4 linked regions of the Homo sapiens genome follow. The protein of the gene in region 2 interacts with the protein of the main gene of each other region in a biochemical or structural test. Each region holds a gene or a part of one and is shown on either strand. Other genes may lie near its edges. The genes, in order: RGS14, RAP1A, RALGDS and RGL4.

Region 1 (5,209 bases), on a different chromosome or scaffold from region 2:
ACGTGGCCCACAGTCTGTAAGTCTGTGAAAATTGAAACCCAGGTCCCAGTGACCACCACACTCCCCTGGGTGGTTCGGGTCTTGGGCTAGACCTCAGACGTTTGGAAATCTCCAACGGTGGTGTCGCTCCCAGGGATTTACACCTGGGCCCCTGCAGGATGGCTCCAAACAAGGCCCACCAGTGGGGAACAGGCTTCCGCAGAGGATGGGTGAGGGCGGGGGGCTGTTCGCGTTCATCGCTCCCTCTTCACTAGAGCTGGGCGGGACTGCAAACGCCGCCTTGCGCCGAGAGTCTCAGGGCTCCCTCAACTCCTCCGCCAGCCTGGACCTTGGCTTCCTAGCCTTCGTCAGCAGCAAATCTGAGGTGAGCCGACTGTTGGGGAAGACAAGATGCTCTATGGGCTAGAGTCACTACTCAGGCCCATTTACGTGGTGGCCCTCATTCCAAGTTGCTGTCCTTACTGCGTCTCCCAGCTTGCTCTGCGTAGCCAACCCTTCAGCCTCCTTACTTGTCTCACTACATTGGTCCCCATATATGTCATGGGTACACATCCTCAGTTGGCAAATGTGTGCACATGTGCAGCACCCAGGTGTGTATACACAGCACGTGTGTGGGAATCAGCGGGTGGACCCGTCTCTAGGTGCCCATATGCCTGGGTGTGCATACATGTGTTCCTGCAGGAGGACGTATCTTTGCCTGCCTTGGGAGTGCGTGTGCATGCTTGAGCCCCAGCAAGCTTACCTATCTCTGTGTACCTGTGTGCATGCCCTTGCATGTGTACACATAATCTCCCCCACTCCTGCCATGAATCAGAGCCACCGGAAGAGCCTTGGGAGCACGGAGGGTGAAAGTGAAAGCCGGCCAGGGAAGTACTGCTGTGTGTACCTGCCCGATGGCACAGCCTCCTTGGCCCTGGCCAGACCTGGCCTCACCATCCGAGACATGCTGGCAGGGATCTGTGAGAAACGAGGCCTCTCTCTACCTGACATCAAGGTCTACCTGGTGGGCAATGAACAGGTGGGAACGTGACCTGGCTCCAACTCTAACCTCCTTCCTGATCCTGACCCCAACTCCATTTCTGTCTCTGCTCAGTCATGGCTCCAACCCCAATTCAAGTTCTAAACCCAACTCCAAAGCACCCTCAGCACCAACTTTCACTCACTCAGACATCCACCCACCCCCCACCTCATGTCCTTCCAGGTTTCCACCTTCATCCATCATCCTATTGTGGTGACCTTAGGGAGGTAAAACTGGAGAGAACCACTGTTGGAGCTGGGGTTTGCCCCTCATCATTCCCAGAGTCCAGACTCCCATCCCCACAGACCCATCCTGGAAATGGCCATCCGTGGGGTGCCCTCACCTCCTTAGCCTCTAGGGGCACCCAAGTGCACCTAACCAATGAACTTTTTCCTTTAGGTGCAAACTAGCTTAAACTTTAAAGAAGACCTAGGGGAAAACTGGCTTTAAAGGAAACCATTCAGTCAGGGGAATCTCAAGGAAGAATGCTACCTTCCAGGGGGCCATCGGGATTTCATTTACCTAGTAGACAAGTCCTAAGGCCTTGCCAGGTGTGTGGGGGAGAGGAACCTAGATCTGGGGCTGTCCTCCTGGCCCACAGGCTGAAAGTAAGCCAAGCAGGGAGTGATCAGGGAGGAGGAAGAGTGAAAACTCCAGAGAAGGTCTCTTGGGAGAGGGTAGGCATTTCTGGCTGGTGTCCGGAAGGCTTCATGGAAGAAGCAGCAGTAGATGTGGATGGGCAGAGCTGTGGGGGAGGATATTCCAGGCAGAGGGAACAGCTTAGGCAAAGGCCTGCAGGTGGGTACTTGCGGGGCATGTTCAGGGGCCTGGAGTGCAGGGGTGCGAGGGCAGTAGTGGGAGGCATTTTGCCCACTCTTCTCAGGCCGCTAGGGCGGCTGCCAGCAGCCCAGATGGGCTTTCATACATGCTAAATATAACTTCCTCACCCACACTCCACCTGCTCCTGCAGCACAGCATAAGCCTACTGCCTGGGAGATGCTGCCCCCAACCCCCACATCAGGCTGGAGCAGGCAGTGGGGCCTCTGAAGGTGGTCATCACGAGAGTTACTGTTTATGTACCTACTGTGTGCCAGGCATTGTGCCAGATGCTTCACATCCTCTGGTTTCACAGCAGTTTTGAGGGTGGGCCCTTTTTGAATGAGGAAACAAGAAGTGTCCTTAGTAGCGGGGAATGGAGAGAAGTGGACAAATGTCAAAAATGGGACCAGGCCAGGGTGGTTGGTCAAAGGTGGGTGGTGAGGGAGGAAATGCTTCCAGCTGGTCTGGTCGGATTTCACACACCTGAGGGACACGAGACAGCTGTCCTGGAGGCAGAGCCTGTCCTGGCACAGAAAGAGTAGGCCAGAGATCCCGGATCTAGGCCTGCCCCTTATCATTTCATGCCAGCAGCTACGTTTCTCGTAATTTCTGTCCTTTCCCAAGAATGTCCAGCATTCTTGCCACTTTTCTCCCTGGCCTTGGCTTTCCTGGGCTTGGACTCCAGCTTGGTACCTTAACCCATTTGCTCCCCTACAGCTCTTCCACCCTCCATCCCTTCCTCTAGGAAGCCCAGTGGTGGCCATGGGAGGGCGTGAAGTTGTTCTCAGACCCACAGGGATGGCTGGGGGTTGGGGGAGGGACTCTTAGACCCTGCCTGGCATCCACAGAAGGCCCTGGTCCTGGATCAGGACTGCACCGTGCTGGCGGATCAGGAAGTGCGGCTGGAAAACAGGATCACCTTCGAGTGAGTGTCCTGCCCCCAAGTCTGGGTCCCAGGTCCTGACGCTCCCTTCAGGCCCTGTTCTAGCTACCTGGCTCCCCAGGCCCCGCCCCTCGTGCTAGCCCCGCCCCTGGGACAAACCCCGCCCCCTACAAGCCAGTCCCACCTTCTGCAGTTCAAGCTCCACCCCCTCGCGTTTGTCCTGGGAAGGGTTTGGCGGGGGGCCGGCCCTCCGGCCCTCTGCTGCCCGAGGGTTCCTCGCAGGCTGGAGCTGACGGCGCTGGAGCGCGTGGTACGAATCTCAGCCAAGCCCACCAAGCGGCTGCAGGAGGCGCTGCAGCCCATTCTGGAGAAGCACGGCTTGAGCCCGCTAGAGGTGGTGCTGCACCGGGTGAGCTTCCGGGCCGCGGGGCGGGGCGGGGCGGGGCCGGGCCGGGGCCGGGGCCGGGGCCGGGGCCGGGGCCGGGGCCGGGGCCGGGGCCGGGCGGAGGCCTGTACCGCGGGCTGCTGACCTCTCCCCACAGCCAGGCGAGAAACAGCCTCTGGATCTGGGGAAGCTAGTGAGCTCGGTGGCGGCCCAGAGACTGGTTTTGGACACTCTTCCAGGTAGGGGACGCTGGCCTCGGGGCTTGATCTGGAACAGCTGTGGCCCAGGAGGAAGGGGGTCCAGGTGGGAGGCAAACACTAACTGTGGCCCTCTCTGCTGCAGGTGTGAAGATCTCCAAAGCCCGTGACAAATCTCCCTGCCGCAGCCAGGTGAGCGAAAGGCGAGTGGCCTCTTCCACCCTCTGCTTCTCCCCTCCCGATTTTGGCTCTGACCCCAAATTCTCGCAGGGCTGCCCACCTAGAACTCAGGATAAGGCCACCCATCCCCCTCCAGCGTCCCCCAGTTCTCTGGTGAAGGTGCCCAGTAGTGCCACTGGAAAGCGGCAGACCTGTGACATCGAAGGTACATGGTGGATGAGCTGGGGATCAGAAAGACTAGGGCAGTGGGGTTGGGGACCATTCAGGGTGGCATCAGAGAGCCTTGAGCTAAGGCAGGGGGCTGGGTGCCACTGGGCGTGGAACAGGAAGGATGGGGGTTGGGGGGTCAAAGGGGCTGGAACAGGGGGCCGCAGGCCATTGGTGCTGGGGCCAGGGAGGCAGTGGCCACAGTAAGGCAGTGGGACTATCGTGGGCTGGCATATAGGCAGGTCTGCTGGGGGGACCCTCATGCTGTGGCTTGCCTCCAGGCCTGGTGGAGCTGCTGAACCGGGTGCAGAGCAGCGGGGCCCACGACCAGAGGGGCCTTCTGAGGAAAGAGGACCTGGTACTTCCAGAATTTCTGCAGCTGCCCGCCCAAGGGCCCAGCTCCGAGGAGACCCCACCACAGACCAAATCAGCAGCCCAGCCCATCGGGGGATCCTTGAACTCCACCACCGACTCAGCCCTCTGACAGCTACCCAACAGTCCAGGACAGCTGCATGGCACCCGGCGGGCCGAGCATGCCATGGGTCCGCTCTGCATGCCCTGTCTGTGCCATGAGTGTCCCTGGCCCCTTCCTGCCATGGGCAGGCCCGCAGGAAGAGCCGGTAGGGGTGGAAAGGGGACTCAGATGAGACACACCCCACAGCTGCCACCGCCTTGTCCCTCAACAAGCTCACCCCCAATCCCTTGCAGCCAGGCCACAATGGGGGAGGTGAGTCCAGCCCCTTGGAACAGGCTTGCCCAACATGGAGGGATGGCGTTGGCAGTGCCAGCCTCCCCAGCCTGTGCCAAGCTTCAACAGGGGCAAGAGGAGGGGCCGGCCCCTCCTCAGGAAGCTGGTATGAGTAAGGCCTTGAGGGTGCAGGCAGGCAGCCCTGTACCCCACCCACATAGACTATACTGTACATACAGATTTTGCAGTAGGCTTGGGGCAGCTGGGTTTGTCCTTGATGTATGATACTGTTATTATAATAATTATTATTATTCTGCCATGAGTTGTCTTCCTTGTGTGCCAGACTGTCCTGTGGCTTCCCCCACCCTCAAAACACACTACTTCTGTCACCAAGGTCAGTGCCAGGAAACTCTTGGGGACCTCAGGATGTGCCTCCTGACTTCCTGTTTTCAGAACCTCTCTTCCTGACTGCACAGTATATGGGGTGGTGTGTGAATATCTTATAGTATTTTTTTTTTTAAGAATATGGGAGCTGGGTGAGGTGGCTCACACCTGTAATCCCAGCACTTTGGGAGACCAAGGGGGGTGGGGGTGGATCGCTTGAGCTCAGGAGTTTGAGACCAGTCTGGGCAACATGTCAAAACTCTGTCTCTACCAAAAATACAAAAAATTACCTGGGTGTGGTGGTGCATGCCTGTGGTCCCAGCTACTTGGGAGACAGGTGGAAGAGGATCACTTGAGCCCGGAAGGCGAAGGTTGCAGTGAGCCGAGATCGTGCCACCGCACTCCAGCCTGGATGACAGAGTGAGACCTGTCATGGTGTGGAGGTGAG
Region 2 (7,698 bases):
GTAAAAAGTTAGTAGGAGTTACAGCAAGTAGTTTGATATACATGTAAGGGTATAGTGAAAGGTAAGGCTAGAAAAGTGGGATGGAGATACACAATTGGGCAAGTGCCAGATTGAGCAGTTTGTACTAAATTTGATGGGGAACTACTGATAGTTTTTAAAATAGGGTGGAGTCATGATCTGGACAATGCTTCAGGAAGATGGTTTTGGCAAGAACACAAGACGGACTGAAGGGAAGGCAACCAAGCAGGAGACCAAACAGGAGATCACAGCAAAAGTCTCGACCTAGGTTAACCAATACCTGACCTAGGGTCGTGGCAATAGAGCTAGAGAGGTGGGGGCAGCTGGAAGGGCCATTGTGTAGAAAGTATAGTATTTATACCTGTGCAGTCCAATATAGCAGCTCCTAATTAAGGCTCTTTAAATGCAACTTTAATTAAAATTAAATAGGATTTAAAATTCAGGCCAGGCGTGGTGGCTCACGCCTGTAATCCCAGCACTTTGGGAGGCTGAGGCAGGCAGATCATGAGGTCAGGAGATTGAGACCATCCTGGCCAACATGGTGAAACCCCGCCTCTACTAAAAATAAAAAAATTAGCTGGCCGTGGTGGCCTGTGCCTGTAGTCCCAGCTACTCGGGAGGCTGAAGCAGGAGAATCGCTTGAACCTGGGAGGTGGAGGTTGCAGTGAGCCAAGACCGTGCCACTGCACTCCAGCCTGGTGACAGAGTGAGACTCTGTCTCAAAAAAAAAAAAAAAAAAAAAATTTACTTCCTCAGTTGCATTAGCTGCATTTAAAGTGCTCAATAGCCATATGTAACTCCTGTTTTGGACTATGCAGATAAAGAACATTTCCATCACAGTGCAATGTTTATTGAACAGTGCAGCTCACTATGCTTTAGGGACTAATTAGGCATAGAATGAGGAAGATGGATTAAAGGAGGCTTCGGTTTGGCAGCTGAGTGACTGAGAAAGGTAGTGCCATGAACAGAAAAGAGGAAGTCAGGAAGAGGAGGAGCTGGATTTAGGAAGAAAGGTGTTTAGTTTCTGTCAAATACTAGGCCAGATAAAGTGTCTACCCAAATCATCAGATATCCCTGGTGAAAGGAAAGGGCAGGGAAAGCAAAGTGCCCATTGGGTTCTCCCAAAGCTTGTAAAGGAGCCCTGGGAGGATTTAATTGGTTTATCTCCTCCTGCACTCAGTTTCTCCTGTTTGTGCAGCTCCCTGAAGATTATGAGTGGGCAATCCAGTTCCTCAACCTCTCCAAACCAATGGTTCACATATACCGTGATGAGGACAGAAGCCCAAGGGCTTTGCTGTTTCCTTAGCTCCTTGGAGCCAGCTTGAACCTTTTTCTCACAGATGCTTTGTGCTTCCTGTCCCCTAACCGCCTTACTCACCCTTCCCCATGCTCAACTTTTGGAAAGTCCCCTTGGCCTCACTTGTTTGATTACTTCCTCTCAAACTACTTCTCACAGGGACCACAGCAAACCATTGACTCTACCACTTTTTACTTGCCCTGTCTTCCCTCCCAGCTTAAATTCCAAGGTCTATCACTATAATCACTCCCTTACATAATACTCCTACCCCTCTCATAGGCTTTCCCCAGCAAAACTCAGACCTGGTCAAATACAATTCTCCTCCAACCCCCAAGCAATGGAGTGTGGCTGGAGGAGAATCACACGGCCTTGCTGAGTGGTCTCACTTTAATGTATGATCATCAACTCAAGAGGGCCCTCAGCACTGTCCATGCTAAGCTTCTCTAGTCACTTTTCCACTCTTCAAGGAGATTATTTCTCACCTTCTTCTATCTCCTTTAATAGCCAACAGCTTTTCATTGCATAGAGAACAGATCTTACCTCATCAATCCCAGTGAGGCAGCCAGTACATATGGCACTCAGTGGAAACTGGGAAAAGGTCCATACGTGTGTGTGTGGGTATGCATGTGTGTGTATGCGCATGTGTGTGTGTTTGCGCATGTGTGTGTGTTATATGCAGGATGCTAACATGCACCACCTCTCCTGGTGGAGCAATCAGAAAAGTACCCCTTCCTCCAGGCTGATGTGACCCCACCAGGGCACGTGGCTTTGTGGGCAAAACAAGGGCTACATTTCAGCTCCTACCTGCCGCCTCTGCTCTACAGGGGCCTGAGCGTGCCACAACCAAATGTACTGTCTAATCTATCTGCTTCTGCACCCAGACACTCTACCTTCTCTCCAGAAACAGTGTGTGAATGCATTCCCTTACTCCTATCCTAGGCCAACCCTTTCACTTCTGTGCTAGATCCAATTGCTTCTCACCTATTTGAGGACACTCTTTCTCCAGTTGTCTCCTCTTGCCTTCTGTGTCATCAATTTTACCTCTCTTACAGAGTCTCGCTCTGTTGCCCAGGCTGGAGTGCAGTGGCGCGATCTCGGCTCACTGCAAGTTCCGCCTTCCAGGTTCATGCCATTCTCCTGCCTCAGCCTCCTGAGTAGCTGGGACTACAGGCGCCTGCCACCACGCCTGGCTAATTTTTTTTGTATTTTTAGTAGAGATGGGGTTTCACCGTGTTAGCCAGGATGGTCTCGATCTCCTGACCTCGTGATCCACCCGCCTTGGCCTCCCAAAGTGCTGGGATTACAGGTGTGAGCCACCACGCCTGGCCCAATTTTACCTCTCTAAAGAATCATTCCAGCTGGGCGCAGTGGCTCACACCTGTAATCCCAACACTTTGGGAGGCCGAGGCGGGTGGATCACCTGAGGTTGGGAATTCGAGACCAGCCTGGCCAACGTGGAGAAACCCCGTCTCTAATAAAAACACAAAATTAGCCAGGTGTGGTGGCACATGACTGTAATCCCAGCTGCTTTGGAGGCTGAGACAGGAGAATCGCTCGAACCAGGGAGTTGGAGGTTGCAGTGAGCGGAGATCACACCACTGCACTCCAGCCTAGCAACAGAGCAAGACTCCGCCTCAAAAAAAAAAAAATCATTCCAGCATACTAAAATGAGAAAAAGCATTTCTCATCTTAAAATATCCTCCCTTGATCTCAAGTACCTCTCTGGCTACTGCCCTTTTCTCCTTCAAAGCAAAGCCTCTCAAGAGCTGTTTAGAACACTTTCTCTTCCTCACCTCCCATCCTATTAACATACCCTAATCAGACTTTCTCCCCTATGACTCCACTGAAACTGTTTTCATCAAGGTCATCAGCAACTTCATCAGGCCACATCCAGTGTTCAAATTCTCAGTCCTTATCTTACTAATTTCAGCAGTATCTGATAAGACTCTTCACTCTCTCCTTCCTGAAACAATTATCTTGTTTTCCAACGCTTCACCTTCTCTTGGTGTTTCTCCTGCCCTGACTGGTAGCGCCTCCTTTTCTACTTAACCTTCAAGTGTTGGAGTGCCTCTTGGTCCTTTCCTTCAGCTATCTCCCCTCCCCATGTGATCCTAACTAGACTTAAGACTTAAAAAGTATCTATTTGCTAATGAATCCCAAATGTATCTCTCTAGACTCATATATCGATTGTTTATTCAATATCTCCATTTGGATGTATAACAGACACCTTAAACATAACATGTGTAAGAAAAGACTCTTGATTTCCCCATCCCCAAATCTGCTCCTCCATTTCATTAAGTGGCACCGCCATTAACTCAGTCATCAGGCCCGAACCTAAGAATCAACTCTTGATTTCTTTTTGTTCTTTCACACACTATGCCCCAAATCCAAATCCATTCCAATCAAAATGTATCTAAATAAAATAAAATAAAATAAAATAGCCTTCTTCTCATCCTGTCCGTGGCTGCCAGGCTAGTTAGTCCAAGCTACCTTACTGGTATCCCAAGGACATCTGTGCTTCTCCATTGTGTATTTTACACACATCAGCAAGACTAACTTTTAACAACATGAATCAGATGCGGTCATTCCTCGGCTCACCCTTCTCTCATGGTTTCCCGTTCCTGTTATAATGGCCCACAGGCTTCACTGGATCTGGCCAAGCCTAGCTGGTACTGCTCTCGGGCTGGCTGACGCTGCTCAGCCATGCCGGCCTTTCACTGTTTCTGCAACATGGCAGGCGTATCCCCACCTCTGGGTTTATGGCTGATTTTCTCTCAGCTTGGAAAGGCTATTCCTCCTCCAGGCCCGCGTGTTTGCAAGACTTATTCCTTCATCCCGTGTGTATGCGCTCAAAGGTCTTCTTTGAGAGGCAGTATCTCACCAGGTGTAAAGTCACCCTATCCTCTGCTTTATTTTTCTCCACACCACTTATCACTACCTGCAATTTTTGTCACTTGTTTGTTGTCTGTCTCCCCTCTCTCACTCCACCAGCATGCAAGCTGCAAGAGGGTCTTTGCCTGTCTATGACTTTAAACCTCTGCGCTTAGTTAGAACAGCGCCTGGAACCTAACAGGTGCTCAATTAGGGCTTGTCGAATGATTGAGTTCCCTCCAAATTCTCTTCTTGAATCTTTGGACCCTTCCTCATCTTTTTTCCGGTCTTACCCACCTCCCATCCCGCCCTACGCAAAGCTAAAACTCCCCGCCCCTTCCCGGTAGCTCCAGGCTTTCCCGGCTCCAGTGTGCGCGGCTCCTTTAAGCGGACTCCGGAACGCCGTGGGGAAGGCGGGGCCGAAGCCCAGCCATCGCCAACTTGGAGGGGCGGGGCAGAACCAGGGGGCGGGGCCTGCGTGGTGCGTGCGTGCGCGTTCTGGAGGAGGCGCCGCCGCCGCTCCCGAGGCCCCTGCCGCCGCCGCTCCCGCTGCTGTCGCCGCGCAGAGCCGGAGCAGGAGCCACGGCCGAGAGGAGGGAGGAGGAGGAGGAGGAGGTGGAGGAGGTGGAGGAGGTGGAGGAGGCGCCGGACCGGGGGGGTGAGTAAGGGGCGGGGAGCTCCAGACGGCCCCAGAGGGAGCGGGGGGCGCGGGTCGGCCGAGCCGAGGGTGAGGCGGCTCATGTCGCCGGTCAGTCGCCTGGCTCCCCCTTCCTCCTCCGCGTTCCATCGGTGTCGGGGCGGCGGCCCGGGGGCCTGGCCGGCGGGAGGGGCCGGAGATCTGGGAGGCCCGGCCGCCGCCAGGGCCAGAGCCAACCACGCCCGCGGACCGACCCGGTCGACTGTAGGCCTGCGGGAGACCGTCGGGAGGGGCCCCGGCCGGCTGTGGGAGAGAAAGAGGACATTGTGTCCCCCACCCTTCAGCTCCCCGAGGTGTCATAGCACAAGCCCATTTCCCTCGCCGTCTCCCCAGACACGGTGCCCTCGTACCTCACTGCCTGAGAGAAGTAGAAGGTTGGACATCGCTGCCTTCCTCCTCTTGCATGTCCCCTGTCTAGGGTCAGAGCTTCCTTCAAACCCAGCTCTCCCTTTTGGGCCCGCGGGGGCGGGGGGGAGGGACACACGGGGAACGGGGTTGGAGGGTTGGGTGAATTCTCTGTCCTCTGCTGTAGGAGTGCGGGTAGACTGGAGCATTGCTGTCTCCGGGCTCACTTCTGTCAGGGTTCAGGGTCTCCCTTTCCTTCCTTTATTCCCCCAGTTAATAGGGCTGACATCTACATCCCACTCCACCTTCCAGCCCCTTTCCCGCCTTCTTTACCCTCATGTCTTCCGTAGCTTACCATGTGTTCGCCTTTTCAGTGTTACTTTTCATGGGTCTCTGCTTCTTCCCTGAATTTTGTTAGGGAAGAGGTCACGGTGTGATTCTTGTTATCCTTCAAACTAGCGGCTTGGTAAGAGTATCTCTTGCCCCCTTAATCAGGAAGTTAAGGACGGTGTCTTCAGCCGAGTTGTGTAATTTACTGCTACGGGGAGAAGATGAGAGGAAGACATTTGTGCCTACAAAATGGGATCTCCTCTTAGGGCTGAGAACCAGAGTTTAGGGAACCTTTGACCTCTTGGAAAAAGAACTGCCATTGAGGAGTAATGCATTCTGTTTTGGGAGGGAAAATCATTTTGTTACTTCTTTGAAGGGAGGAGGTATAAGAAATGAAATAGAATAATAGAGCAGAAGGTCAATGAGCCACAGCCCTACAGGTAGCCAGCCACTCTTCTTAGGTGGCGGATGATGTTTTTGTTTTGATTACAGTAAGAATAAAGTATCAGCTCTTAGATTTAACTTGGGGCTCCTACCTTCAAAAGCATGAAGGGCCGTCTCAGAAGAGATGCTGCTGGAAACAGGATTTGGAAACTTTCTTTGGGTTTCCTGTCAGAATGTGTGGGGGTGGACATGCCTATGTGTAGTTTTTCTTTCCTTGTGATGTAATTTATTTCTGTGATACTTTGACATAATAAGCATTAAATTAGGCCCCAGACTTTCTGTCTTTATTATGCTTTCCTATAACATTGTTGTTTTGAAATCATATAGTTCGATATTCTTTTGTAGCGTGATATTTCAGTGAATCCTGTCTAGTTTTCTTGGTGTTTTAAATTATGGCCTACTTCAGATACGATTAGCTGTTAGGTATTGAGGATCATACGTGTTAAGTATTTGTTGAATGAATTGAATGATTACAAAGATGAGTCTAGTTATTAAATCTTCTGTCCTTTTGAGAGGTACCCTATATTAGGATACTGCAGTCCATTTCCAGTTTGTAAGATAGTAATTCTTAACCTTTTCTAGGCCACTGACACCTTTGAGAATATGATGAAATATATAAACTCTCTCCCCAGAATAAAGTTAATAGGCATTTATTCACAAAATTTTGCATTAGTTTTAGGGACCCTCTGAGGCCAACCATGAACTTATGTCTTAGAAGTGAACTGGATGGAATCCCTCAGTGTTACACAGTTCCATATTAAAACAGCTCAAAAGCCTTTGTTCACTTTTTGTATGGCTTCAAGAAGGACAGTATCTACACTTAATATACCCCAGAAGACAGGTATATTCATATACGTTGTTCCTGTAGTCCTTCTGAAAATGAATCCCAAGGAAATATTCCAAAAGAAAGAAAATGTTGTATATGCACATGTTCATTTAATTATTTTAATAGATGGGAAGAAAAGGAAACTACTTGCCCAACAGCAGAAAGATACACAATTTTGCAATCACTGAAAAAGGTTAGAAGTGAAGATTATTAATCTCCTAATTGATCTTCCAGCTTCCACTCTTGCCCCTCCACCCCAAGTTGATTTCCACACAGCAGCTACAATGATGCTCACAAACTTCAGAACAAGTCTCTCTTCTATTCAAAACCCTCCAGTGTTTTCCCATCTCATTCACAGTAGAATCCAAAGTTCTTACCATGGCCTACAAGCCTTACAGCTGCCCAGCTATTTCCCTAATCTCAAGCCCCTTTACTTTTCCTCTTGCTTACTGTACTCCAGCCACACTGGCCTCCTACATCCCAAAAAGGTCAAATACACTGAGGTGTCTGCACTTAATGTCCTCTCTGCCTGTAACCTTTTTCCCCAAGGCAGTATATATCCCTCACTTCTTCAGGTCTCTGCACCAGTCTCAGGTCTTCCCTTACTACCCTTCCCTGCCACTGTTTCTATCCTCTCACCCTACCTTATACTCTTAAGACTAGGTTATACTGATTTTGACAGCCACAGTTGTTGACAAACATTCCATGGTAATGTCGCTTGTATACTTGCATTGGACATTATTGTTTAACATTTAAAAAATAATGTCAGTCATAAAAAGATAACTTTCAGATTGTTAAGTTGAATTTTTCAATAGCTCACATTTAAATTTTGGATGTTAGCTTACCTCTCTTCAACATTTAACTACAGGA
Region 3 (7,036 bases), on a different chromosome or scaffold from region 2:
AGAGTGCCCAAGGCCGCGGAGGGGCAGGGGGCTGGCCTGGGGGTAGGGAGGAGGGCCCTTTCCTCTCTAGCCACGGTGCCTATGGGCCCCATTAGAGGTAGCCTCCTCTGGACCCTAGCAGAGCCACACCTGGATCAGCTGGTATCTGGGAAGACCAGCTGCAGCCACGAAAGGACAGGCCTGGCAGAGCCGGCTCAGGCGGGTGTGGGGCTGGGGAGGGCCAGGGGCCACACGACTTGGGAACCTGGCATTTCCCAGATGCCAGCCAGGGAGATGGCTAGAGGGAGTCTGGGGTCCAGGGAGACAGTGGGCCCCAGGAGGCCCCCAGAGGTCCCCCAGCTGTTCCAAGTGAGACCAGTTGGGGCTGGGGGCTGAGAAAGCCTTCAGGGGAGGGGCCTTGCTCATCCTCCTACCCCAATGTCACAGGGCATCATCCAGGGCACCGTTCCCTACCTGGGCACGTTCCTCACCGACCTGGTGATGCTGGACACTGCCATGAAGGACTATCTGTATGTGAGTGTGCCGGGCGGGGCTGGAGTAGGGCCCGGGAGGAGAGACCTTCCCTGAGCCCTGGGGGCTGGGCTGCCACACCTGTCCCAGCAATGAGTAAACAGCTCAGTGCCCTGCTGGTGACACCCCAGGGCTGCCCAAACACAGAGCTGCAGCAGGGTTTGGCTGAGTGGGACACAGCCCATCCCTCAGGCAGTGACCCTGAGCACAGAGGGAAGCCAGGCCCTCAGCGGTCAGGCGGCACGTGGTGGCTGAGCAGGGCCTTCTCACCCAAGGCCTCAGTCCATTGTCCTCCGAGAGTGCTGGACAAGAAGTCCCCAAGCCTCTGCCCGCATGTCCCCTTGCCCTGGTGCCCAGCACCGGCTTCAATCCAGGGGTGTGCGTGCCCTGCCCCCTGGTGGGCACTCTTGATAGTGCAGCATGAGGTGGGGAGACTGTAATGGTCAAGGGGTCACTTTCTGACGGCCATTGGGTGTCCACCTTCCAGGGCAGACTCATCAACTTTGAGAAGAGGAGGAAGGTAAGCAGCTGCAGGCAGCCCTGACTTGGGGAGGGGTGGAAAACAGACCCACCAGGGTAGGACATTTCAACTCCTACCCTCTCCTTAGATTCATGGGACATGGGACATTTGGACACAGAGAGAAGGGGGTCCCCTCCCACTGGAGGGTGAGGGTAGGAGGTTATAATCCAGGACCACCTCCTGGGGAGTGGCTGAGCCCAACTTTGAGAACAGGAAGGCCTGGATGGGAGTAGAGGGGAGGAAGGGACCCCAAGAACAAAGACCCAGAGACTGGCCCCTGTGCTGCCCGGGGGGCCTTGTCACCGCCCTGTGCTTCCCTCTGGCCCCAGGAGTTCGAGGTGATCGCCCAGATCAAGCTGCTGCAGTCGGCCTGCAACAACTACAGCATCGCGCCAGATGAGCAATTTGGGGCCTGGTTCCGGGCCGTGGAGCGGCTCAGCGAGACTGAGAGGTGAGGCCGGGGCAGCAAATGGGGACAGTGGGGGCAGGCTGTCCTAGGGGGCCAGCTCCAGAGGGCCAGCAGCTATGACCCATGGTCAGCCTCAGCCCCTGTTGCCTGAGGATGGCCGGGGCACCCCGACTCCAGCTTCTGGGCAGGTGCTGGGGGAAGGCCGGAGCATGGCCCCTGGTTGTCACACCACTGCCCCTCTGCTCATAGCTACAACCTGTCGTGCGAGCTGGAGCCCCCATCCGAGTCAGCCAGCAACACCCTCAGGACCAAGAAGAACACAGCCATTGTCAAGCGCTGGAGCGAGTAAGGGCCTGGCCAAGGGTGGTAGGGGCAGCTGCCTTGGGGCTCAGAAGCTTCAGGGCTGAGCCTGGGCTCAGGGAGTCAGGGAGGCTGGCCCTGGAATCCTACCCTGCTGCTGACTGGCCCTGAGACTGGGATGAGTCCCCTCACCTTTTTGGGCCTCAGTTTCCTCCTCTGTGAAATGGGGTGATACTAAATGCTCTCCCAGATGGCTGTGGTGAATGGAGTACTGGCAACTGTCCCAGCACTTTGCACAGTCCTTGGGCGCAGGGTGCAGGGGCTGTGGGGTTGGGATGTGTCCTTGGGGAGCCCCCTTAACTAAGCCAACTCTTCACCCAGCCGCCAGGCCCCCAGCACTGAGCTCAGTACCAGTGGCAGCTCCCACTCCAAGTCCTGTGACCAGCTCAGGTGTGGCCCCTACCTCAGCAGCGGGGACATCGCTGACGCGCTCAGCGTGCACTCGGCCGGCTCCTCTAGCTCCGACGTGGAGGAGATCAACATCAGCTTCGTCCCGGAGTCTCCTGATGGCCAGGAAAAGAAGGTGACTGCCTGCCCTTCTCCCCAATATCCTTTCCCATCTCCCCACTCCAAATCCATGCATGGGGCCAGGAAGCCCTGGATCCTGAACACAGCTTCTAGAAGGTTCCCCATCTGGCAGCTGGCCTGGGGTGCCCCCACAGGGCAGTGGGATCTGCTGATCTTACCGTCTCCCTCAGTTCTGGGAATCAGCCTCACAGTCATCCCCGGAGACCTCCGGCATCAGCTCAGCCTCCAGCAGCACCTCGTCCTCCTCAGCCTCCACCACGCCCGTGGCTGCCACACGCACCCACAAGCGCTCTGTCTCAGGGCTCTGCAACTCCAGCTCCGCGCTGCCGCTCTACAACCAGCAGGTGGGCGACTGCTGTATCATCCGCGTCAGCCTGGACGTGGACAATGGCAACATGTACAAGAGCATCCTGGTAAGCCGGCGGGGGTGGCCTGGGTGCCTCCCTCCACTGGCGGCAAATGCACCCTGAACACAGTGCACCATCCCTGCCCTCCCGGGGTCTACCTTGTAGTTGGCGGGGAAGGACAGATGTCAGCCAGGTACAGAAATGAAGAAGGTAGTGATCAGGGACAAGGCTGGCCTGAGGGCAGAGGGGGAGGAAAGGAGCAGCCGTGCAAAGCCCCCAGGAGCTGAAGGGGCGGTGCTGTAGGGGAGGTGAGGTCAGGGAAGTATCCAGGGCCTGGCCACATAGGCCCTGAGCCCTGCCAGGACCTCGACTTTCTCGGGGAGGAAGACAGGAGCAATGATGGCTGGCTTCTCTGTCTGGTGTGGGCTGGTACCAGAGCCGCAGGGGTGTTGGTTAGGAGGCCGCTGTGGCAACCAGGCTGGGAGCCCTGGAAGGGGCCAGCAGGGTCAGAGTCTAGACAGGATTTGGAGACAGCAGATGGGAATTGCTCACAGAATGGGTTTGCCTGGGGGCTCTTTCTTCATCCTCCAGGTGTCCTGCGACAGATGAACCATTTGTAACCCCCACCCTCTGTACCCCAGCCCTGGGTCAGGTGCCCCATTATTCACACACGCTCCTGACCCCTCATTGCCAGGAGCTAGCATGGTTGTCATTAAGCAGTCACCTGTGGCCCTATGTCCGAGTTCCGCCTGTGCTCTGGCCCTCAGGGTCAAGGTAGCAGGGGCCTGGCCTATGCTGACCACACTGAGCATCCTGGCCGGCCCCTCCTTTCTTACCTCCAGGGCTTGGACTAGGGACTGTCTGTTCCCCAGGCTCAGTGATGCTGTTATCCTGGAGGGGCAAGTGCTTCTCAAGGAAGTGTGGGAGGAGGGAACAGTCTCTTACAGGAGAAGCAGGGTAGGCACTGCTGGGACAGACCCCTCCTCATTCCATGGAGGCCTCACATGGGGAACAGAAGGACGGAGGCCTCACTTGGGGAGTAGGAGAATGTGACAAGGCCCTCTCCGGACCCAGCACCTGGCCAGAGGCTGTGAGTGCCTGTGCTTGGTGCTGAGGGGACTCCAGAGGGTCCTTGGCCACTGCACTCTGGGGGAGCCGCTCCAGGGTCTTTTCCCTGATGGTCCATCCCCCGCCGCGATGCAGGTGACCAGCCAAGATAAGGCTCCGGCTGTAATCCGCAAGGCCATGGACAAACACAACCTGGAGGAGGAGGAGCCGGAGGACTATGAGCTGCTGCAGATTCTCTCAGATGACCGGAGTAAGTCAGAAGACCAGAGGGCGATGGCAGAGGGGGCAGGTCCACACCACTCCCCAGCCCCAGGTTGGAAGCCTTTGGCCCCAGAAAATTCACCAGCAGAGTGTGGGTAGACACTGTGGACAGGGCAGCCCTGGCTGCCCCCATTGTCTGCTTGCTGTCCCCAGCAACCACTGGACCTCCCCAGTGTGTGCCCTTCCCTAGGCGTGAACAGGCAGTTCAAAGCTCACATCAGTGAGGAGCAAAGAGAAAAGGCATTTTTCACTGGGACAGGTTAGCCACGTGGCCCACTGGAAGGGACTCTTTCTGGCTAAGACAAGAAAACATGTGCTCTACAAAGAATGGTGACAGCTGTGGACCAAAGTGTCAAGTGTTAAAATCCATGAGTGTGTGATTCTAAAAGCAGAACAGGCTACTAGGAGGCCAACTCAGTATTCTAGAAACTGGGAAAGTGTCAAGAACCAGTGCAGGCTCAGAGTGGGGTATCCTGGGCCTGGAGACGCTGGGCAAGCTCCTTAAGCCCTCTGTGCTTGTCTTCTCATCCCCCAAATGGAAATGAAAGTAGCCAGTGTGTTCATCATATATGTAAAAATCTATATGTATGTATATATGTGTATATGTATGTATATATGTGTATATATATGCATGTATATGTGTGTGTATATATATGCATGTATATGTGTGTGTATATATATGCATGTATATATAAAGCATCTATGTGCACCATAAAAGTTAACTATAAATACTATCATCGCTGTTTTCTTTCCAGTGAGCTGAACACCACCTCCCACCATTAGCCCAGACAGTAAGCAATGACTCCTGTGATCCCTAGAAGTTACAGTCTAAATCCTCTGGCAGCTTCTTGCACCATTTCGGTTAGGTGGGCAGGGTAGGCGGGACCCCCATCTTACAGAAAAGGAAGACTGAGGCCTAGAGAGGTTAAAGATGACGAAAAGCCACACGATGTCGGCAGGAGCACAAATCGAGCCCAGCTCTGGTTTATAGCAGGCTGTGGGCCAGAGGAGATGGTGGGAAATGGAGCCAAAAGGAAGTGCTTGCCGGGTGCCAGGGTTCAAGGAGTACAGGCCTCCCTGGAACGGGCGCCAGAGCCCTGGGGCAGGCCTGTCCTTTCCTGGTCCTTGGATCCCTTGTCCTGAGTAGGGCAGGATTCTGGGAGGTGACCTGGATTCTAGAAAGCCTGTTCCAGGTGGGCAGCCAGCACTGCAGTATGGGCAGGACGGGGTGACCCTCTGCCAGCTCAGGCCAAGCCGGGGGGTTCTGGAGTCAGTCCCTGTTTAAACAAGAGTCATCAGGTTTTGTGAGGACCTCAGCAGAGTCTGTCCTCAGGCAGGAGTCATTGAGAGGGGTCCTTGGAGTTCTGGAGCTGTATTGGAGGGGATCTGAGGTCTGTGGCTCAAGACAGTCCTTGTATGGGCTCTCAAGCGGTAGGGGTATCCTGCAGGGCCCCCAGGAGCATCCCTGATCACCCCTCTGCCCCTCCCCACCAGAGCTGAAGATCCCTGAAAACGCCAACGTCTTCTATGCCATGAACTCTACCGCCAACTATGACTTTGTCCTCAAGAAGCGGACCTTCACCAAGGGAGTGAAGGTCAAGCACGGAGCCAGCTCCACCCTCCCTCGCATGAAGCAGAAAGGACTCAAGATTGCCAAGGGCATCTTCTGAGGGCATCCTCCCAGGGTCTGGCTGGCTGGTAGCCAAGCACTTATGGACCAGAGTGGCCCAGGCCAGCTGGGCGCCTTCCTCCCACCTGCCAGCCCAGGGTACCCCAGACTCCAGTTTCATCCTGAACCTCTCCCGCTGCTGGGATTGACGCCTGCCATTGGTCAGGCTGACCTGGCCTCCCGTGGACCACTCGCTGCCTTAGGTGCCTTCTGCTCTCTGGAACCAGAGGACTAGCTGACTTTTGCCAAGGAGCAGTGCCAACGGGCATGGCATGGTGCCCTGCCTGCCCCCGGGCGCCACCTCTGTACACTTCCCTGACACCTTCCCAGGTGTGGGTCACTGCCACCTGTGCCCATGGGCACCCCAGAGCACCCACTGTGACCACTGCAGTTCTCTCATGCCCACAGGCACTGGCCTGTGACCTTCGCAGGGGTCCCGGCCCCTCCCACCACTCTAGCCTTTCTCAGGCTGCACCAAAGATTCCATCATCAGGGCCAACTGAGAGTGAGGGAGTCTCACCCACCGCTTACCCCAGCCCTCCCCTGGGAGCAGAGAGAGAAACCCTCTTCATGGACCAGACTCTGCACCCGGTGAGTGAGGACAGTCCCAGCTGAGTCCCATCGATGTTGAATCTCATGCCACTGCAAGTGCCATTCACCACTGCGTCCTGGGCTTTACGAGACCATGCAAGACGGGGGTTAGTGAGGAAGGAGGATTTGGGGTGGGGGTGGGGTGATTGAATATTTGTATAAAAAGCAAAAAGAAAAAAAAAATGTTTGTTTACTGATTGGGGAGGGGCAATATTTATTTGTTGTAAATAGCAAATGCTAGACTTGAATATTATATTAAAATCCTGTTTCTACTATACCCTGGTCATTACAGTTTTGTTCTTTCATTACCTGTCTTAATTAAAATGAGATAGAGACTCTCACATTCCGTGTTTAAGTAAGGACCCTTGCAGGGTTATCCAGTTATTTTATGCACAGGAAAAGCCAGCCACTCTTCTCAGCACACTGAAGGAAACACAAAAGTTTACCTTTCATACAGCAGATGTTCCTTTTGGCACCATTAAACTGGGAAATGTGCTGAGACAGCCCTCAGAACTCCTGGGACTAGAGTTTGGAGGTACTTTCACAAGGCATAGCAAGAATTTCTGAAATTTAGCTGTCTTTAAAAGTAACATTTGTGGCCAGGCGTGGTGGCTCATGCCTGTAATCCCAGCACTTTGGGAGGCCAAGGCAGGTGGATCATGAGGTCAGGAGATCGAGACCATCCTGGCTAACATGGTGAAACCCCATCTCTACTAAAAATAAAAAAAATTAGCCAGGCATGGTGCCAGGCACCTTTAATCCCAGCTATTCGG
Region 4 (7,130 bases), on a different chromosome or scaffold from region 2:
CACCCACTCTCCGCACTCCTCGCCACTGATGTGGGCAGCTGATCTCTCCGGTTTGCTGGGCTCTCACCCTCTGCCCAATGGCACCAAGTTAACTTCTTCGCATGCTTTATTTTCTGTGATTAAAAAGGGAAACAATTCTCACTAACGCCATTTCTCAGAGGAGAAAACAGGCACAGGGATGTTCTATGACTTCCTCACGATCACCAAGCTACAAGGGGGAGCTGGGCTTTGAATGGAGGTCTACCCATGCTCCTAAAGTTGAGGCGTCCTCCAAGGAAAGGACAGCACCTATAAAAGCTCAATGAATGGGGCGGCAGTGTCACCACTAAGCCCGACCACGCTGCTACTCTGATATCCAACTTCCAGCCTCCAGAACAGGGAGAAATACAGTTCTGTTTTTGATGAGCTCCCCAGGCCGTTACAGCTCTTTCTTTGCTGTAACAGCCTGAACTAGCCCAGAAGTGCTATTCCATCATCTGTGTCATATTCCATCATTCAGAAGGGAGTCACTAACCCCTCAGTGCTGTCTCTGTGGACGCTGCCCACCCTAGGCTGAGATGAGGCACAGGGTCTGGGTCTAAATAAAATGGGAAGGCACTGGAAGGTGCAATGTCATAGGAGGAGGATGTCTGAATTTCATTTAATCTCAACCTCTACTGGTGCAGCATGAAAGATGAGGCCCAGAGCAAAAGTGTCTTTTCCCGAGATCACACTGTGGACCCCAGGCCCACTGGAGTTGCATTAGACGTTACCTCTCACCCCTTCTTGTATTTGTTCCATTTCTAAGTGTGTGCAATATCCACAGGGAACACCACACCATGAGTTTTTAAATATTTATCTCAAACATAACCTCATGAGTTCCCTAGGAAAGAGATGCTAGCATAACCCCCATTGTGCATGCTGGGGAGACCCCAAAACACCAAAGGAGTTCTCTAGGGTCTCACAACTGCTAAAATAAAGGCTGTTTGACCCAGCACTGTCTCCTCAAACCTGGGACCCTGGTTATATCCAGGTCTTCCCAAGGTGCTGAAGGGGCACACTTTTTCATAATGGTGACTACGTAAGGAGTTGACGGGGGAGGGTGAGCGGTCAGAAGCCCAGAGGGGCCTTTGAGTAGGACTTATGGAAAGGAGGAGCTTACAGGATGGAACCTACAAGATGTGACCTCACTTCCTTGCCGACAGACCCCCAACAGAACTTACAATTCTGGTAACTAGGCACCCACATTCTAGAGACAGCCCCATTTCCAGCTCACTTCGTAGGCGATGCTCGAGAGAACAACATGTTCTCCTGCTGTATCCCGACATGCTGCCGACCTCCTCGTCGCACAAGAGGCCAAAATGAGAGTCTTTCCCGAGAATATAGACATTGGTTCAACCCTCACCCTCGACGCCTCTGGCCCTTTGCCAGAAGGCACCCACAGGTAACACAGGGCCCAGGGCAGGCCCATCCAGGCTAGGCCTCAGCTGTGCCCATCAGGGCAGCCTCAGGCCCCTCCCCACTTGTTTGGGGGAAACAGGAGATGAGGGGCCCTCCCTGGATAGGAGCAGGTAGGTTGTCAGGTGTTTGGAGCCTGGTAGGTATGTCAGGTTCACAGCCCAGGCAGTGCCTGGCAGGATGGGAAGGTGAGTGTCAAGGACACAGTTTGTCTGCTCAGATCTGAATCCCAAGTCCTCAAGCTGTCATCTGCCGGAGACCTCAGGCTTCTCTGGCTGGAGGTCTATGCAGATGCTCCTATGTGCCAAATCCTGTTGGGGAAGGGGGTGCCAGGGATGAGTTCTAATGGGGGTGTCCCACTGTGGGGTCAGCCAGACAGGCCACTGACACCTCTTGGCCCGGCTCTCGGGCACTCTCTTTGCAGAGCTCCACACAACAGACCAAACAAGAGCTGTTGGATGGATTCAATTTCTCCATATTCTTCAAAGGGCACGTGCACCACACCACCAACCACGTCCAGTGCCGGTCTGCGGTGAGATTGGGCACAGAAGGGTCTCCACAGACAGGACTTGTGAAAACCAAGGTGGGCCCAGGACTCAGACACGAATATGGGGACTCCCTAAGCTCCATCCTAGGGCGTTCCCACTTGAGTGACCCACTGTCCTCTCCCAAAGGAATCTGGCTGCCATTAGTCCCCAGTGGCAACTTGGTTACAGGCAAAGTCCCTTTCACCTATCAGAGGAAGACCAGAGAAAATCCTTCTGTTTTCACTTTAGGCTATGCCAGGAGTATCTCGGCATGTTGCTTTAAGAATTGAGTACAATGGTAACATTGCAGCAAAATACTCACACTGTTATCATTTTAACTCCCCACCCTAAGTGGATCTCCGGCAACAGGCAGGCAGCTCCGCTGCCCTGCCAGACCTCCTCCAGGACTTAAAATCCAACACTTTTGCACAAACAAGGGGTGGGGGTGGGGGGGGTGCATTGATTACAACAAAAGAAGGTGAAGCGACTCTATGCATTAGTCTTTAAAGTGTCATCTCACAGAACTCATCCCTGCAGCCCCATCAGGCAGGAGTTGTACCCTCGCATGTCATTGTAACATTCCTTAAGGGAGGCCATTTTCCACAGCGGGTCAGCCTCTCAGTGCTGGTGGAGCCTGTCATGATAAAATTCCCTTTCGAGGCAGCCTTTCTACAAGGAGCATAATCCTATGCGTGTCCTAATAGGCTGGAGCAGTTTGCCAGGGCTGCCATAACACGGCACCCTGACTGAAGGGCTTAACCACAGAAATCTGGTTCCTCACAATTCTGGAGACTGGAAGTCCAACGTCAAACTGTCAGCCTGGGGTGGTTTCTCTGGGCCTCTCTCCTTGCCTTGGAGATGGCGGACTTCTATCTCAGTCAGCACAGGGTCTTCTCTTGAACTTCTCTGTGCGCTGACCCCCTCTCCTTGTAAGAACCCCAGGCATGTTAAATTAGGGGCCACCCTAATGAACTCACTTCACCTGAATTACCTCTTGGAGTACTCTGTGTCCAGACACAGTCACATTCTGAGTCTCTGGGGTTGAGAATAGAAACAGTTACATTTGGGGAAGGGGACACAATTCAACCCATAAAATAAACAAATCCCCTGCAGCAGACAGACACCCAGGAAAGGGATATCTGGGTGAAAGGATATGCAGATATCAACTTTCAACAGCTCTAGCTAGTTGACTTTCCAAAAGGGCTCCAGCTGGTCACACGGTCACCAGCAGCCTCTGAAGGTAGCTGCTTCTCTGAACGCAGCCTCCCCTGAATACTAACACGCTTTTAACTTTTCGCCAACCTGCTGTCTGTGTGGCAGAGAAAATCCTTGTTTCATTTCCACTTTCAAACATACATTTGCGTAACCTTTCACGGGTTCAATACCTGCCTGCGTTTTCCCCAAGTCGCCTCGCAGATCCTGGGCCTTGGGACGCGCTTCCTCCCACCCTGGAGTCTTCCGGCATTTTCCCCTTGGCCAGGGCTGGGATGGCCGTAGCTGTTTCTCCAGACTCACGTTCATGTTAAAGGAACAAAAACAATCATATACCTTTAAGTCAAAGAGTTCTTCTAGAGCGTATTGTCCTGTGTGCTGTTGCTGAAATGAGGAGGGGATGAGGCCTCCCCAGGCCTTGAGGACTTGCAGGGATGATGCTCTTCATGCAGGTTGCTGACACAGAGGGTGCTGTTGCCCCACAGCTGACAAACACCGGGACGATGCCTTGAAGGCAGGAATCGTTTTATCATTCTCCATCCTCACATGCAATGTTACTTTGAAAGCCTAGAACGCTTTTCACCATGGGCACCCAGGTTCTCCATATGCACAAGTCCCTGAAGGGTTGGTGCTTCTTGGTGTGAGTTCCAGATCCCGATCCTCTGGTGGTCCATGGTGTTACCACTGACTCCCATGTCCCTCCTTGTCCCCCTAGTATGAAAATGAGATCTGCAGGATGCTAACTTTCCAGCCCGGCACTGGGGAGAAGCTGTTGGGAGTCCCTGGTTCCAGCCTTTCTAACTAAACCCATCTCCTCCTATGCCACCTGCCTGGGCCCCTCCTGGGACTTTATCACTGTGCCACACTTTTTGGAACTACTGGTTAGAAGGTGAGTGTCCATCCCCCTCCAAGACACAGAGGTGCCTCTGTCCCCTACTGGCTCTGTCTTGAAGATGCACCTCTCGGAGCCTCGGTTGGCTCCTCTGGAACAGGGAGTAGTGAGAAGACGAACCTCACAGGGTTCTTGTAGGGACTCAATGATCTAAGACACAGCAAACAAAGGGGTCCCTAGAGCCTAAAACTCTGGAAAATCTGCTGGGGGTGCTGTGATTCATGTTTGTTACTTTTCTCTTCCCCCTCACTTGAAGCAGCTCTCAGCATTCTGCCTCAATGGCCTGTATCACTCACTGTTTGGAAAAACACATAGAAACCAAGTCTGCGATGGCACTGGTAAAGGATGTCTGAGATTCCTTCTGGCTGGTCTTTCTCCTTGACACAGACAGAAGAGGGGTCCCTTGGTGCTGAAAAAGGAGCCACAGGCCCACTCAGACATCTGGAGAGGCTCACTGGGGTTCTCCAAAGGTTGGGGTTCACTCATTCAACACATACATTCAAAACACCTCATTTGTGCATCGCTCTTCTTGGGGCTTGGCATAATTTCATAAACAAAGCAGATGACAATCCCCCGGCCTTGATTCTACTCAGAGTCAGGCACTCACAGTAGACAGAATAAACAAGTCATATCTACAGAATGTTACAGGTGAGACCCTCATGGCCTCCTCTACGTATGGTGGCATCCTCCCAGATTCTGACTAGAATGACGCAGCCCAGCAACAAATATAAACTGGGTGGATTTAGGGTTCTGAAGGGCCTTTTCACCCACAAAACATGGGGGAAAATATGTGGACTCTGGCTGGGGAGAGACTAAAGGAGCTCTGGGGCTCATACTTCTTATAATTCCCACGAGAAGGCTGACATCTGGGGACTTCCCCCACAAGAGGCAAATAGTGAGTTCTGTAAATGGAGACTTAGGTCCCCTGCAAAGCAGAGGGGAGGCTGGGGTCACAGCTGGCCACTGAGAGACCCATCCCCCTCAGCACCGTGGCTTCCCAGCTCTCCCTGTCCTCCTCCCCCCGACATCTGCCCCTTCCCTCCTAACCCCAGGACCAGGGGACCCAGATCTGGAGCTTTGATGAGGAAGCTGCTCACAAATCTGCCTGCAGCTGCAGTCTTGAGTGCCCAGGTGTACAGTGCTGTGCTCCAGGGCCTTTGGGAAGAGAATGTCTGTGGGACGCCAGGGCGCACGAGGGTCTGTACAGCCCTGCTGTATGGCCAGGTCTGCCCCTTCCAGGACAGCACTGATGGCTTACGGTAGGGTGGGGCTGTCCTCCACACTGGCAGCAACAGGCCAGGGACCCAGAACCACGCAGGGGTGCCCTGGAGGGTTGTGTGGGAGAAGGCCAGGCCTCTGACTCAGCTGTCTACTCCATCACCAGCACCATCACCTCCATTTTGTTCAACTGGCCCCCCGAAAACACTTCAGTTTACTATCAGCCCCCGCAACGGTCATCTTTCCGGATAAAGCTGGCCTTCAGGAACCTCTCCTGGCCTGGACTGGGCTTGGAGGACCATCAGGAAATTGTCCTAGGCCAGTTGGTGCTTCCGGAGCCCAACGAGGCCAAGCCAGATGGTGAGGGGGCTTGCAGTCTGCAAGACTTTCCGGGGGTGGTGTTTTGGGGCTACAATTCCCTTAAATTCCACCCGGTCATTTCTGTGCTTGGAAAACCCAGTGAAAAATGACTGGTGTGGTGACCTTTTCTCCTTTTCCAGATCCTGCTCCACGTCCTGGGCAACACGCATTAACAATGCCGGCCCTGGAGCCAGCACCACCACTGCTGGCGGACCTGGGGCCTGCTCTGGAGCCAGAGTCACCTGCAGCCCTGGGTCCACCAGGATATCTACATTCAGCACCAGGGCCAGCACCAGCACCAGGGGAAGGGCCCCCTCCAGGGACAGTGCTGGAGCCACAGTCAGCCCCAGAGTCCTCCTGTCCCTGTCGTGGGTCTGTAAAGAACCAACCCAGTGAGGAGCTGCCTGACATGACGACCTTCCCTCCCAGGCTGCTGGCAGAGCAGCTGACCCTCATGGATGCGGTGAGCAGCTGAGCTTTGCAGGCTGTGTCTCTGGCACCAGCTGTCTCAGACCAGCCTCTCCCTGAGGAGCAGCCAATGCCCTCGGTCCAATTTCAGCCCCACTTCTTACCAACCGTGGGATCTGGATGAGTTTCCTCACCCACAAGCCTTCCCTGTCTGCATGTGGACGGCAGAGATGGGACATCACCAGCGCCAGCTGCACAGAGTGACTGTGCAGACTGAGTGACAGGAGATGGACAGAAAGCAGGGCAGGGCAGGTGCTCACTGTGGGGCAGGCAGGGCCATGGGTCACTCACCCAGCTGCTCAGGAGCCTCACTACCCTCAGCACTTATTAGGTACCTGATGCATACTGGATTCTATGGTAGACACCCAAACAGAGCCCATAGTTGCAGCTGCCACAAGGAAAGTGCACCGGTACGGAGAGGAGTAGTAGAGGGCTGATTGGGATGGGAGGAAGACGAGGCCTCAGGATGGGCAGGCCTGAGCCACCTTCTAGTTCTTAGAGTGTGGATGGCCTGGGAGAAAATGTCACTCTCTCTTCCCACCCTTGTTGGGTTCTAGGCCATGATGCATTCAGGTCCCTCGGGGGCAGAAAACCAAACCCAGGGACTCCCACAAGTCTGGAGCCCATTTTAAAGCTTTCTGAGCTCCAGCTTGGTTCCTGCCAGAGACCGTGGATGACTGTGAGCTCAGTCCCTGCCTGGGACTGTGGGTGACTCTGAGCTGCAGTGTGCTGTGTCCGTGACACTCTCCTCCTCCCCCAAAGGAGCTGTTCAAGAAGGTGGTGCTCCACGAATGCTTGGGCTGCATCTGGGGCCAAGGACATCTGAAGGGGAATGAGCACATGGCACCCACAGTTCGTGCCACCATCGCACACTTCAACAGGCTCACCAACTGCATCACCACCTCCTGCCTCGGGGACCACAGCATGAGGGCCCGGGACAGGGCCAGGGTGGTGGAGCACTGGATCAAGGTGGCCAGGGTAAGCTATGGTTGGGCCTGGGGATTCCCTCTTTAAAA

Evidence for each region.
Region 1: the proteins of RAP1A (region 2) and RGS14 form a complex in vitro, tested with the Homo sapiens proteins (one study listed by BioGRID).
Region 3: the proteins of RAP1A (region 2) and RALGDS form a complex in vitro, tested with the Homo sapiens proteins (one study listed by BioGRID).
Region 4: the proteins of RAP1A (region 2) and RGL4 form a complex in vitro, tested with the Homo sapiens proteins (one study listed by BioGRID).

What each region holds. Positions count from the first base shown.
Region 1 is NC_000005.10:177,367,903-177,373,111, forward strand, and holds the end of RGS14 (regulator of G-protein signaling 14), read left to right. Parts: intron 1-254; coding exon 255-364; intron 365-814; coding exon 815-1,018; intron 1,019-2,685; coding exon of another isoform or gene 2,686-2,688; coding exon 2,689-2,762; intron 2,763-3,002; coding exon 3,003-3,129; intron 3,130-3,262; coding exon 3,263-3,344; intron 3,345-3,447; coding exon 3,448-3,494; intron 3,495-3,572; coding exon 3,573-3,687; intron 3,688-3,970; coding exon 3,971-4,173; 3' UTR 4,174-4,694; downstream 4,695-5,209.
Region 2 is NC_000001.11:111,615,091-111,622,788, forward strand, and holds the start of RAP1A (ras-related protein Rap-1A precursor), read left to right. Parts: upstream 1-4,698; 5' UTR 4,699-4,844; exon of another isoform or gene 4,845-5,308; intron 5,309-7,698. UniProt on the Homo sapiens protein: Counteracts the mitogenic function of Ras, at least partly because it can interact with Ras GAPs and RAF in a competitive manner. Together with ITGB1BP1, regulates KRIT1 localization to microtubules and membranes.
Region 3 is NC_000009.12:133,097,224-133,104,259, reverse strand, and holds the end of RALGDS (ral guanine nucleotide dissociation stimulator), read left to right. Parts: intron 1-426; coding exon 427-513; intron 514-997; coding exon 998-1,030; intron 1,031-1,359; coding exon 1,360-1,481; intron 1,482-1,688; coding exon 1,689-1,784; intron 1,785-2,120; coding exon 2,121-2,322; intron 2,323-2,497; coding exon 2,498-2,740; intron 2,741-3,877; coding exon 3,878-3,992; intron 3,993-5,497; coding exon 5,498-5,673; 3' UTR 5,674-6,538; downstream 6,539-7,036. UniProt on the Homo sapiens protein: Functions as a guanine nucleotide exchange factor (GEF) activating either RalA or RalB GTPases and plays an important role in intracellular transport. Interacts and acts as an effector molecule for R-Ras, H-Ras, K-Ras, and Rap.
Region 4 is NC_000022.11:23,686,883-23,694,012, forward strand, and holds the start of RGL4 (ral-GDS-related protein), read left to right. Parts: upstream 1-4,130; 5' UTR 4,131-5,148; coding exon 5,149-5,327; intron 5,328-5,452; coding exon 5,453-5,646; intron 5,647-5,786; coding exon 5,787-6,109; intron 6,110-6,876; coding exon 6,877-7,092; intron 7,093-7,130.